2 linked regions of the Homo sapiens genome follow. The protein of the gene in region 2 interacts with the protein of the main gene of each other region in a pairwise test. Each region holds a gene or a part of one and is shown on either strand. Other genes may lie near its edges.

Region 1 (3,750 bases), on a different chromosome or scaffold from region 2:
GTTTCTGCTTGTCAATTTCTGTAAAGAAGCCACTAGGATTCTGATTGGGATTGCATGAATCTGCAGATCCAATGTAATCCATATCAAAATTATTGATTTTTGAACAATATAAAGTCTTCTAATCTGTGAACACAAGGTGTTTTTCTGTTTATTTATTTATTGTTTGTTTGTTTGTTTTTTTGAAGAAAGGGTCTCGCTCTGTCACCCAAGCTGGAGTGCAGTGGCACGATCTCAGCTCACTGCAACCTCTACCTTCTGGGCTTGAGTGATCCTCCCACCTCAGCCTCCTGAATAGCTGGAACTACAGGCATGCACCACCACGACCAGCTAACTTGGGTGGTGGGGGGTTGGTAGAGATGGGGTTTCGCCCTGTTGCTGAGGCTGGTCTTGAACTCCTGGGCTCAAGAGATCTGCCCATCTCAGCCTTCCAAAATGTTGGGATTACAGGTGTGAGCCACTGTGCCTGGTCATTTATGTCTTCTTTCATTCCTTTCAGTGATGTTTGTAGTTTTCAGTGTATTTCTTTCCCAATCACTTTTCAAGACTGCAGAAGAGGTATGTCAACACACTGCACAGAAGTGTGTTAGGGCCAATGAGGGGTGTGGAAGAGCAGGTGTAATCTCCTCCTTCTGTATCAATGTATTTCTCTCATCAAGAATCAAGCTCTTGGCCAGGTGCGGTGGCTCATGCCTGTAATCCCAGCACTTTGGGAAGCCGAGGTGGGTGGATCACAAGGTCAGGAGTTCGAGACCAGCTTGGCAAACATGGTGAAACCCCATCTCTACTAAAAATACAAAAATTAGCCAGGCATGGTGGCGGGTGCCTGTAATCCCAGCTACTGAGGAGGCTGAGGCAGGAGAATGGCTTGAACCCGGGAGGTGGATGTTGCAGTGAGCCGAGATCGCACCACTGCACTCCAGCCTGGGCGACAGAGCGAGACTCCATCTCAAGAAAAAAAAAAAAAAAAAGAATCAAGCTCTTTCTCCCATCCCCCCACCAAGGCAAAAATGAGGTAGAAGAAACATCCTATAGAAGAGAAATGATTCTAGTATAGGTTCTAGAAATGATTTCTAGTCCAACCTGGGCTCTGTAAGATCCAGCCAAAAACCTGTTCTTCAAAGGAAAAAGGCCATACATTGATAAACCTCTAGCCAGACTTAGGGGAAAAAAGAAAGAAGACAAAAATTACCACTAGCAGAAATTAGAGATGCCACTACCACAGATTCTACAGACATAAAAAGGATAATAAGGAAGTATTAGGAATGACTTTATGCCAATAAATTTGACAACCTAGATGAAATTGACCAATTCCTTAAAAGACACAAACTACCAAAGTTCACTCAAGAAGAAATAGATACTCTGAATAGCCTTATATCTGATAACCTTACAGGTCACATTTGACAGTTTAAAAGTAAACAGACTTCCAAACTGGCCTGCTTGGGAAGGTCTTATGATTAATGGTCCCTGAGTAAAGAATCTTATCATGATTTCCTCAGATTGCTGATGTGCTGATTAATGGACTGAAAAGATGCTGATTTATTCCTGAATCATAAAGGTTTACTGACTGTCTTGCACAGAGATGTGTTGACCTGTATGTTGTCATCTGTAGCCAATGCTTGTAACCTCTGTGTTGTACCCTCCAAAGAAAAGGACAACATGAGTATGAGGAGTCCTTTCTCTCCTCCTAGCCTCTCCTGTAGAAGCCTTCTGACTTAGATATGAGTATGAGTCCTTTCCCTCCTCTTAGCCTCTCCTATAGAAACCTTCTGACTAGAAAAGGACAACATGAGTATGAGGAGTCCTTTCCCTCCTCCTAGCCTCTCCTATAGAAGCCTTCTGACTTAGACATGAGTATGAGGAGTCCTTTCCCTCCTCCTAGCCTCTCCTATAGAAACCTTCTGACTTAGATTCCAGAACACTCTCAACTTTGTTGGTGTGTTCCTCTGGGTTGATCCTCACATTTGGCTTCCAATAAACCTTTATCGAATTATTTGTCTCAACAGCCTTAATTTCAGTTGACATTATCAATAAAATGGAATTTGTAGGGGGAAAATGTTCCCACAGAGACCATTCAAGGCTCGGGTAGTTTCAGCGGTGAATTCTACCACTTAAGGAATAAATAACACCAATTCAACACAAACTCTTCTAGATAAAGAGGAGGGAAGACCACAAAACAATGAGAAAACAAATAACAAAATGGCAGGAGTAAATCTTTATCAATAATAACTTTGAATGTAAATAGGCAGGTGCAGTAGCTCATGCCTGTAATCCCAGTACTTTGGGAGGCTGAGGTGGGCGGATCACTTGAGGTCAGGAGTTTGAGACCAGCCTGGTCAATGTGGCAAAACCCCATCTCTACTAAAAATACAAAGATTAGCTGGGCGTGGTGGCACGCACCTATAATCCCAGCTACTCGGGTGGCTGAGGCATGAGAATCACTTGAACCCAGGAGGCGGAGGTTGCAGTGAGCCAAGATTGCACCACTGCACTCCAGCCTGGGCATCAAAGTGAGACCCTGTCTCCAAAAAAAAAAATTACAGCACAGTCAAATCGATGAATGATAGTATGTGAGTTTGGTCAAAAACAACCAAGAAACTTTGAATGTAAATAGACTAAACTCTCCAATCAAAAGACGGAGTGGCTGAATGGATAAAAAAAAAACAAGACCCAACCATCTGCTGCCTACAAGAAACACACGTCGCCTATAAAGACTCACACAGACTGAAAATAAAGGGATAGAAAAGGATATTCCATGCAAATGAGAACCAAAAAAGAGCAGTAGCAGCCATAGTTATATCAAAGTGGATTTCAAGACAAAAACTATAACAAGAGACAAAGAAGGTCATTATATAATGATAAAGGGGTCAATTCAGCAAGAGGATATAACAGTTATAAATATATATGCACCCAACACTGGAGCACCCAGATATGTAAAGCAAATATTACTAGAGCTAAATCGAGAGACAGACCCCAGTACAATAGTAACTGGAGACTTCAATACGCATTTTCACCCTTGGACAGATCTTTAAGACAGAAAATCAAAGAAATATCAGACTTAATCTATACTATAGACCAAATGAACATGATAGATATTTACAGAACATTTCATCCAACAGGTGCAGAATACACCTGCTTCTCATTAGCACATGGATCATTCTCAAGGATAGACCATATGCTAGGCTGCAAAACAAGTCTTTAAAAATCAAAAAAATTGAAATTATATCAAGTATCTTCTCCGACCATAATGGAATAAAATGAAATCAATAACAAAAGGAATTTTGGAAATTATACCAACACATAGAAATTAAACAATACGCTCCTGGATGGCCAGTGCATCAGTGAAGAAATTAAGAAGGAAATTTTAAAAATGTCTTGAAACAAATGATAATGGAAACACAACACACCAAAACCTACTATGTACTAGATTCAGCAAAAGCCATACTAAGAGCTATAGCTGTAAGTGCTAAGAGTTTATAGTTATGAGTGCCTATATCAAAAAAGTAGAAAAACTTCAAATAAGCTAATGATTCATCTTACAGAGCTAGAAATGCAAGAGCAAACCAAATCCAAAATTAGAAGAAAAATAATTAAGATCAGAGAAGAAATAAATGAAATTTAAATGAAGAAAACAATACAACAGATCAATGTAACAAAAAATCGGTTATTTGAAAAGATAAATAAAATTGACAGGCCAGGCATGGTGGCTCATGCCTGTAATCCCAGCATTTTGGGAGGCCGAGGCAGGCGAAT
Region 2 (3,750 bases):
GACCCCTCAGAGGACTGCCGAGGTGATTCGGAAAGCCAGGGCTGGTGGGCGCTACAGAGGCCTTCTGACCCACAACACTCTCCCATCTGAAGCTGAGCCACTCCCCACTGGGTCTCCATGCCTGTGCTTGGACCCCTCTGTGGAAGGGGGACTCATTACTCTGAGGTCTTGTGGCTGGCTTTAGACAGGGGAATTAGGGGAAGAATGCTCCTCTCCTGGGTCTGCCTTATCCCCTCTGGGACTAACTTGGGAGAAAAGAAAGATGGGCGAGGTTGGTGAGTGTTTGGGTGTGTGCGGTGTGTGCATTGCACATATGTTTGTGTGTCTAAGTGGGTTTGGTATATGAAGGGACAGTGCGTATGAGCATGTGCATACGTCCCTAAGTGTGTCATCCTGGCATAAGCAACGTCTCCTGGATACTCCTTCATGGGTCCATGAATTCCTCGACTGTGAGGATGGCTGTGTGTGAGAAAGTCTCTCTGGGTGTGACTGTGGGTAGCCATGATCGTATGATGTGTGGGTGTGAGTGTTTGCATGAGTGTGCCCAGGGGGCGTGCCCTGGTGGGGAGGCCAGCCCTCAGGCAGTGGGGGGGGGTGCTCGTGCCAATAGAATAAACACCCATTAGGAGGCCTGGTCATGCCACCAGTGTGGTAATTGTGCCCAGGGAGGGTTGTAAAAACCATTAGGCTGACTCAGTTGGGTGAGAGGCGGTGGCGGGAGTGCCAGTGGGCCCCCTGCCCGCCCACCTCCAGCTCTGTTCCAGGCTCTGTGACAGCCCTGAGTTCAGCAGGGGCTGACTGTGGGTAGGGCACTCGCTCTGGCCGGTGGGGCTCCTTCGCCCTCATTCCCTGGCCCCTCCCCCTTTCAGCCCAAAGTTTCTGCTTAATGAGGGGCGGCCACTCCTTCCTCCTCAGCTCACTTGCCCCAGGGAGCAGCCAAGCTGAATCATGCCCAGCAGAACTGGGTCTTGATGCCAGCGTCACTCCAAGTGGCTGGCAGGACCTGGTGCAGCCTTTCTTGGGGGCAGCTGGCCTGGGGCAGGTTGCTGGTTGAGATGACCCCTAAGGCTCCCAGGGTCACCAGGGAGGATTCTTGAGCCACCAGACCAGCCAACTAGGGATTCACCTTCGACTCCCACCACAGTCTCCACTAGGAGTTAAGGCCACGTTGCCCCATGGGCGGAGTTAATGGGCGCTGGGGCCTTTTATGGCCCCATGAATCTGTGACTTTGGGATGCCAGGGCAGCCCCCACCCCAGCCACTTCCTGTTTGGAAGAGGGATGGTCAGCACTAACAATTATGTCCAGTGGCTGGACACTTCCCCAGCCCCACATCCCTGACTCATGGGGCTATGGGATGCCCACAGCAGCTGCCTTGGGCATGAGTGCTGGCCACTCCAGGGTCCAGTCTATCCTTGCCCAGAAAAATGATCTTCAAAAGGGAAGTGAGAGATGGAAAGAGGTGGGGGATCTTTGAACTAAGGAATTTCCTTAGGTGGGTCACAGGGGAACTGTCAGAGTCAGAAGGAATCTATGTGCCAACGGATCTGACCCACTTTACAGACTGGGAAACTGAGGTTCAGAGAAGAAAGGGCCTAGCCCTGGATCACACAAGGAGGCAGTGACAGAGCTTAGCCTCCAACTCTGTCCCCCAGCTAAGGGCCCTGCCCAGGTCACCCCATAGGGCCTGCCTCACAATCTGGGGCCCATCCCATCCTCACAGATGCTTTCTCTCTGAGATCAAATGTAAACTCAGGAGTGAGGGAGTGATGCAAGTGGCTAAAAGCAACAACTAGAACCAAAGGGAACAAAAAGCTGTTAGACCTCTTCACTCCTCAGCCCCATAAAACAGGGATTACATGGCTCCCAGGAAAAATAATTAAGCCAGGAAGATGAGATGCGGGGAGGGGTGGGGGCCAGGCCGGGAGCTGGTGGGGAAGGAAGGCTGAGAGGACTGGGCTTTTCCCTCTCTCTGCCCTGGCCCCTTGAAACCCTAGAAGACCCTCCAAAAGCTTTAGGGGTTAGGGAGAGTTCAGCCCCTGACCTGCTGGGGTATGGAGGGCAGCCCTGAATTCAGGCTTTGATGCTTCTTGAATTCCAGGGACGACTCACCTCCCTCCCTCTTTCCCTTCCAGAACCTCTGGTGGATCAACACACTTTTCCACTCCTGGACAGACCACTCCGGCCAACTTGCCCACTCCTCATCTGATGGCAGCCCAGCAGGATAAACTTATTTGAACATCAAGCGTCAAATTATCCCCAGGCAGGACCATAGATGGTGGGGGCAGGAATCACCCCCTGGCAGGTGGAGCTGAGTTCTGGATTACCCGGGTCTCAGCAACTGCCCACTGCCTGGGTGACAGATGAGATTTGTGTCTACTAGGGCTTGGAGAAGGCACTCCTCACACACAATCTCTGGTCTCCCTGATACCCATCCCAGGAGAAGGGGGTCTGTGCTGGAGGGTCTAGGTGGCACGCAGAGAGGGGTGTGCAAAGCCAAATAGCTTGATCCAGTAACTGATCCCATCTACTGTGCGACCTTAGGGGAATGGACCACCCTGTCTGATGTGTTTGTCCACCTTGGGAGAAGAGCCCCTGTCCTGCCTCTAGAGAGGGAGCTGGGTAAGGCTCCCAGAAGCGCCTTCTGTGAATGATAGAAATGAGATTCTGCCCAAGGGGTTGGGGGAGAGTCAGGTGAGCCAGCCTGGGACACTCAAAGACTGGGAAGCCCACACCCCGCTTTCTGGCAGAACTGCAGCTGAGCCTGCCACCCACAGAGATAGATCCTAATCTCACCTTGGAAGGCAATGGCTTCTTCAGCCCCGACCTCCCAGTCACCGTGGCTGACTAGCTTCTCCAGCCCCACAGCATCCCAGCGGTCGGGGTAGCAATAGTGTCTTATTTCTTCTCCAACTTTCTCTTCCCACTTGGGGTAGGTGGATGCTCCCTGAGGCCCATCGGTGCTACCTTGCCCACCTTCCCCAGCAGAAGGTCTGACTCCAGTCTGCTGTGCAACCTTGGATGAGCCACTTGGGCTCTCTGTTCCCCACTTGGAGCACCTTTTGTAGGAACTCTGTCCTTCTGAGGTGGAGACAACGGAAAGCATGGTGGGGGTAAGCCCTCTCCTGGCTTTCGTTCTAATTCTTCTCCCACCTCCAGACAGAAGCCTCTGCTCAGAGAGGCCTGGCCTGTCCAGGACTTGGGGGTGATGGGATGGGGAGGAATCTTGGGCTCACCTTGAAGTAAGGAAAGTGCTCCGTCATAAAATTGTAGATCTCGCTGACGGGAAGGCTCCCAGTTTTACTGTTCTTAAGGGCCATGAAGATGAGGATGCTGAAGAAAGAGAAAGCCCCTGAGAGTCCGAACCTCTGACTGGGTCCTGAGCCCACCCCAAGCCCCCCACCCCTGGTGAGAGGCTCTATGGGATTGGAGGTGAAAGAGAAGGGAATGAGAAGGTGTCCATTGAAGTGAGCACGGAAGTCAGGAATTACAGACGTGCGAGGGTCTTGTGGAATCTGAGAAACCTGGGTGGCCATCCTGGCCTAGTTACTCTCTGGCTGTGTGACCTTGGGTGAATGCCTTACCCTCTCTGAACCTCAGTTTCCTCAACTTTGAAGTGAAGAAAGTAATAGCTACCTCAGAGTTGTGAGGATTAAGGATGGTGCCTGTCACATAGAAGGCACTCATTAAACGGAAGCTGTCATTACTAGTTAGTCCTCAGCCAATTGCATGAATGTTGGAGAGTAGGGAG

The links. Proteins that work in one complex are often made in the same cells at the same time.
Region 1: the proteins of FOXN1 (region 2) and SPATC1L interact in binary tests that used the Homo sapiens proteins (3 or more experiments, as listed by UniProt).

The regions. Positions count from the first base shown.
Region 1 is NC_000021.9:46,163,844-46,167,593, forward strand, and holds part of SPATC1L (speriolin-like protein), read right to left. Parts: intron 1-3,750.
Region 2 is NC_000017.11:28,530,331-28,534,080, reverse strand, and holds part of FOXN1 (forkhead box protein N1), read right to left. Parts: intron 3,333-3,750; coding exon 3,236-3,332; intron 1-3,235. UniProt on the Homo sapiens protein: Transcriptional regulator which regulates the development, differentiation, and function of thymic epithelial cells (TECs) both in the prenatal and postnatal thymus.